2 separate regions of the Homo sapiens genome follow, and region 1 is linked to region 2. The links come from fine-mapping of genetic effects on gene expression. Tissue or cell type: whole blood. Region 2 holds a variant in brackets; the other region holds the start of a gene. All regions are shown on one strand. Distances are between the middles of the regions. Region 1 holds the start of FOXI1 (forkhead box I1). Region 2 has its middle 34 kb from the start of FOXI1.

Evidence for each region. PIP is the estimated chance that this variant, and not a neighbour inherited with it, causes the effect.
Region 1: FOXI1 starts here. The variant in region 2 is the best candidate, but not a certain one, in a credible set for the expression of FOXI1 in whole blood (TOPMed, PIP 0.79).

What each region holds. Positions count from the first base shown.
Region 1 is chr5:170,104,665-170,107,568 of GRCh38, forward strand. It overlaps FOXI1 (forkhead box I1), which reads left to right and starts at 1,233. Exons shown (of 2, transcript NM_012188.5): 1 at 1,233-1,867. The coding sequence starts at 1,294.
Region 2 is chr5:170,138,594-170,141,497 of GRCh38, forward strand. It overlaps the pseudogene KRT18P41. Among named protein-coding and RNA genes, the nearest start is that of FOXI1, 34 kb to the left of the region's middle. The variant C/T (reference allele first, on the strand shown) is at 1,715.

The sequences.
Region 1 (2,904 bases), 34 kb before region 2:
GGGAGCCTGCTTGCCCTGCAGCTGGAAAGAAACTTGAATTGTTCAAGTTCTCTCACTTTTCCCTGAAGACTGATTCCCCATTTTCCCCTTTTGCTATTATTTTTAAGAGCCTTGCTGCTCTCCAGGCAAATTCTCAGGTTCTCTGCCCGTCTGCAGCATGTATGCATATGCGTGTGTGTGTGCGTGCGTGTGTGCGCGTGCGTGCGTGGGCGTGTGCGCGTGTGTGGGCGTGCGCGTGTGCGTGTGCGCGTGTGTGCGTGTGCGCGTACGCGTGTGTGCGTGTATGTGTGTGTTGGGGGAGGCTGCGGTGCCTATGACTGGTTGCCCCCTTGAACCCCACCAGAAGCCAGCCCAGGCCCCTCTGCGCCCTCTTCTGAGTCTCCAGGGCCGGTTCTCTCCTGGCAACTCCAGAAAGTGCCTCCTCACCTCAAAAGACCAAGAAACAGGGTTTCTGATAAAGTGTCCCACCCAGTCCCGGCTGGGGCAGTTGGTTAGAGAATGAGGGGACATTGGGGGGAAGAGGAGGGAGAATGAGGGGATGGGAAGAGAGGCGCAGAGAAAATGAGAGGTGGAGAGAAAGGGACAGAGTGAAAGAGAAGGAGAAAGGGGAGAAGCCGGGAAGACAATGAGAATGGAAGCGAGAGATGGAAGTGGAAAGAAGAACTGGAAGCCTAGAGACAGAGGGAGAGAGGGAGAGAGGGAGGGGGAGAGAGAGAGAGAGAGAGAGAGAACGGGAATGAGCAGCTGTGATGTGGCCAGATCAGTTCATAGAAAAGAAACACAGTTCAGAGCAGAAGGGAGGAAAGAAAATAAGAAGGAAAGAAACAGAGAATGAGATGCAGAGAGGAGAGGAGGGAGAGAGAGAAGGAAACCGAGGTGGGTAGAAAAATGTGACGAAAGGGAAGGACAGAAAAAAAAATGAGAGAAGTAAGACAGAATAAAGGAGAAAAAGAAGAAGGGAATCATGAGGATGGTGAGAAAAGACAGGAGAGAAAGCCGGGAGAGAGGATAGAGGGGCGTTCTCGCTGCGCTGCGTGTCAGCTCTGGTAAGCCGTCTAGCATGTCATTAGTGGGGACCTGAGGCGCCAGCGGGAAAGTCCCCTCCCCGTGGGCTGGAGGCTGAGGGAGGGCGGGCCCTGGGCTGGGATCCACAGGCAGGTGGCCGCCCCTGGGTGGGGCCGCCCGGCCAAGCCCTAGGGGTATAAGTGGGAGGCCGGGCCTGCTGAGCACCTGTCAGGGGCAGCTCCGGGGTGCAGGTGCCAGGCAGGTGGCTCCGGCCAGCCCAGCCCCAGCATGAGCTCCTTCGACCTGCCGGCGCCCTCCCCACCTCGCTGCAGCCCCCAGTTCCCCAGCATCGGCCAGGAGCCCCCCGAGATGAACCTCTACTATGAGAACTTCTTCCACCCACAGGGCGTGCCCAGCCCTCAGCGGCCCTCCTTCGAGGGGGGCGGCGAGTATGGGGCCACCCCCAACCCCTACCTCTGGTTCAACGGGCCCACCATGACCCCGCCACCCTACCTGCCCGGCCCCAACGCCAGCCCCTTCCTGCCCCAGGCCTATGGAGTGCAGAGGCCGCTGCTGCCCAGCGTGTCGGGGCTTGGGGGGAGCGACCTGGGCTGGCTGCCCATCCCCTCGCAGGAGGAGCTGATGAAGCTGGTGCGGCCACCCTATTCCTACTCGGCTCTCATCGCCATGGCCATCCACGGGGCACCCGACAAGCGCCTCACTCTCAGCCAGATCTACCAGTACGTGGCCGACAACTTCCCCTTCTACAACAAGAGCAAGGCCGGCTGGCAGAACTCCATCCGCCACAACCTGTCGCTCAACGACTGCTTCAAGAAGGTGCCCCGCGACGAGGACGACCCGGGTAAGGAGGCTTTGAGTGTGGGGGGTGTCCCCAAGGAAGACTCACTTCCTTCCTCCCCAAGACCCCATTCTAGAAAGTTCTGACTAGGGCTGTGCCCCCCAAGACTGGGGGATGCTACCAGGCAGGACAGAGGGGAGCTCAGCAGTGAAGGAGAGCATGGGCCTGGGGGAAGATTTGGGTTTCAGCCCTGGCTGTGCTCCTGCCCAGTCAGTGACCTCTGGCAGGTTAGACCTCAGAGCCTCAGTTCCCTCATCGGAAAACCAGGGATAGTGACAGCATCTGCTTTGCAGGCTGCAGTGGAGGTGATGAGATAATGTACACAAGGTTTTAGGTGTTATCAAGCGCTTAATCGCCTGCAGTAATTACGATTCATCTGCATCTCCAGCACCCAGCACATAGAAAGTCTTTGGTGAATGAATGACTGGACCAACCAAAGCCCAAGGGCATCCCAAGACTGCCAGGAAGAGGATCTGACCTGGGTTAAACAGCCACTAATGGCCCATTTTGCTGCCTGCCTTGTTTCTACTTAGGTAACCTCCTTTAACCCGAAGACACCCCTGCAGGGTAGCTCTTATGAAACCCATTCTACAGATTAGGAAAATAACACTCAGAGGTGACACAGAATGAAGTGATAGTGATGGAGCTTGAATTTGAACTCAGTTTTCTCTAACATCAGAAATTGTGAGCTTTTCCTTTTCAACGATGCATTTCTAAAACTCAGAGACCTGCAGAGAGGCATGTATTAAATACTCATGCATCCATTTCCCAGAATTAAAGTCCACTTTTGTTCCACCGCAGGAAGCCAAGGTATAGCTCAAAGGAACCCCAACTCTGCCCCATTTGAGGGTGGCAAACACCAGGCCTGTTTGTCCCCAGAAGAGGGCAAGTGTCCTGTCCAAGGACTGCCATCACCCTCAGGCTGAGAGACGGTAGCAGGAAGAGTTCAGGCCTTCCCTCGGGAAGGTACCTCCCAGCTGCAACGCTCCTTTCCATATCCGGTGTGGATCCTTTCTCAGTGGGCCTGAGGAAGACAGGGG
Region 2 (2,904 bases):
CCATTTTACAAAGGAAAGAGCTGTCAGACACAGTGTCACACAGGAAGGTAGACGATAATGTCAATATCCCTCATCTTAGTATAAAGTTGTCCTTAAAAACTCTCCATTATTTATTAATTTATTGACTCACTTATTCATGTTTTCTGCACAGTGATACTTATCCTGCACGAGACTCTCACACCAGTGCTTTGGGTGTAAGAACACCCCAAGGATTGTGTTCCCTTTTCTCGAAGAGTCTGTGGTCTAAGGGGATTCAATGGGGTCCACTTTCCAAACCAAGACAGCAAAGGAACACTAGGAGAGAAGTATTCTGTGCAGAGATTCAGTTATATGATAGCTAAGAGGTGGACCTTCCATTTAATACTTTGCCTTGGGCAAGTCACTCTCCTCAGTTTCCTCACCTGCTAAGTGGGCATAACAATAGTACTGACTTCACTGGGCTGTTGCGAGGACTGAATGAGATGACATGGAAGGTATCTGGCTCACAGTCAGTGCTCAATAAATGGTGATTACTAAAGAAAACCCATGAGGAAAGGCTAAAGGGTCTGGAATTCAATGGGACAGCTAATTTTGCTTGCTTTTTTTGTTTGTTTGTCTCAAAATTTTGCTTTTAAATTGAACATTTTGCACAGTTATTAAATGTGTGCACTGGTCTTGTTTATACCTGTGATCTAGTTGAATCCTCAAAGCAACTTCTTGGAGCAGGCATTGTTAATTTCTTCTCATCTTGCGCATGAGAAAACTAAGGACCAGTGATAGGAAGTTCTCCAAAATCACACAGCAAGAAAGGATGTGAGCCAGCGTCCTGGGCTGCTTGTCTCCACCCTGGGCTCCCTCTTGTTACATGATGGATGGGATTTGGTTGATATTTGGTTGTAGATTGGGCAGGAAAACTAAGGTTCAAATGGGGCAGTGAATGGCTCAAATGTGATAGGAAAGCCCTGATGGGAAGGGTCGTTAAACCTTGGAATGGGCGACTCCAACAGAAGCAGAAGCCCTAGCCAGGACGACTTCCCCATCATCTTCCTGGATGAGTCACAATTCACTGTGGTCCTACCTACAGGCAGCAGGCAGGGGGATGAAAAAGATGACCAGCCACCATCTTTACTTTCCCCAAGTTCCCCAAATGTTGTCCCCCTTCATTATTATTCAGCCAATGATGACAAAGCTACTGGTGTTGCCACTGCTCCCCACACCCCTCCTCCCACTCCCACAAAGGAACTCTATCCTGCTCCATCTATGCACCATTTTATGCTGAATCACTCGGTGATGGAGTGATCTGGTGTCTGTTTACACAGAGGAAGCCCCAGCCTGAAGACCTGGTCAATCCAAGTCAAACACATTCGATCCTTAGCACGTGCCCTGTCATGTGGCCTCCCTTGCCCACTCAGGCATAGGATCTACCAGGGCGCTTCTTCCCATCGAGCTGAGAGGCCACTGGATTAGTTTCTTAGATCTGCCTTAACAAACTGTCATAAACTGGGTGGCTTGAAACACAGAAGTTTATTCTGTCATAGTTCTGAAGGCCAATGTGTCAACAGAGCCAAGCTCCCTCCTGAGGCTCCACGGGGAGTTGTTCCTGGCCTCTTCCAGCTTCTGGTGGCTCACAGCATTCTGGCTCATGGCTGATAACTCCCATCTCTGTTCCTGTCATCACGTGGCCTTCTCCCCTTCTCTGTGTCCGTGTCTTCTCCTCTTCTGTTTCCTAAAAGGA[C/T]GTTTGTCATTGATTTTAGGGTCCACCTGGGTAACCCAGATAAGCACATCCCAAGATCTTTAACTTAGTTAGATCTGCAAATGCGAGTGTTCACATTTTCCAATTCTTAAACTAAAATAAGGTCCCATTCACAGGCTTCCAGGGTTAGGGCATGGACATATGTCCTGGGGGCCACCTCCAGCCCACTGCAACCACAGAATCTTTCTCAGCACAGTTCTCAAATTAGTTGATGCACACACACAAAAAGATGATGGCCCATGAAATGCAGGCCTTTTATTTATTTATTTATTTTTGCTCTCTGAACTTTTTATTGGCCTCCTGCTCCCCAGAGTGGACCCTGCTTCTCCTGGCTTAATGTCTCAGAACTTTGGAGTCATTGGTCTCAGACACCACTTTGCCGTCCACTATATGGTGGGTGGTGGTCTTTTGGGTGGTTTGCATGGAGTTGCTGCTGTTCAGGGCATCACCAAGACTGAATTCCTCACCGTCTTCCAGCAGGCAGCGTTAGGTGGTGATCTCAGCCTCCTGCTTGACTTTGATGTTCAGCAGGGCCTGGCACTCCTGGGCCTGGAGCTGCCCCTCTGCCCAGGTCTATGCCAGCTCTGACTCCAGGTGAAGCAGGATCCCGTTGAGCTACATCTGAAGGATGTAGTGGGCCTCCACTCAGGCTGTTCTCCAAGCTGGCTTTCAGATCTCTCAAAGAGTTCAGGTCGATCTCTAAAGACTGGATTGTATGTCTCGGCTCCATTGAGTGTCACCTCAGCAGCTTCAACCTCGGCGGACTGTGTGGTGACCACTGTGGTGCTCTCCTCAATCTACTGAGACTAGTACTTGTCCAGCTCCTCTTGGTTCTTCCGAGCCAGCTCCTTGTATTGGGCCCGGATGTCTGCCATGATCTTGGTGAGGTTCTGAGATTTGGGGGCATCTACCTCCATGGTCAACCCAGAGCTGGCAATCTGGGCTTGTAGGCCTTTTACTTCCTCTTTGTGGTTTTTCTTCATGAAGAGCAGCTCCTCCTTGAGAGCTTCGATCTCTGTCTCCAGCTGCAGCCGAGTGACATTTGTGTCATCAGTGACTTTGCAGAGCCCATGGATTTCGCTCTCCACAGACTGGCGCATGGCCAGCCCTGTCTCATACTTGACTCTAAAGTCATCAGCAGCAAGACGGGCATTGTTGATCTGCAGAACAAT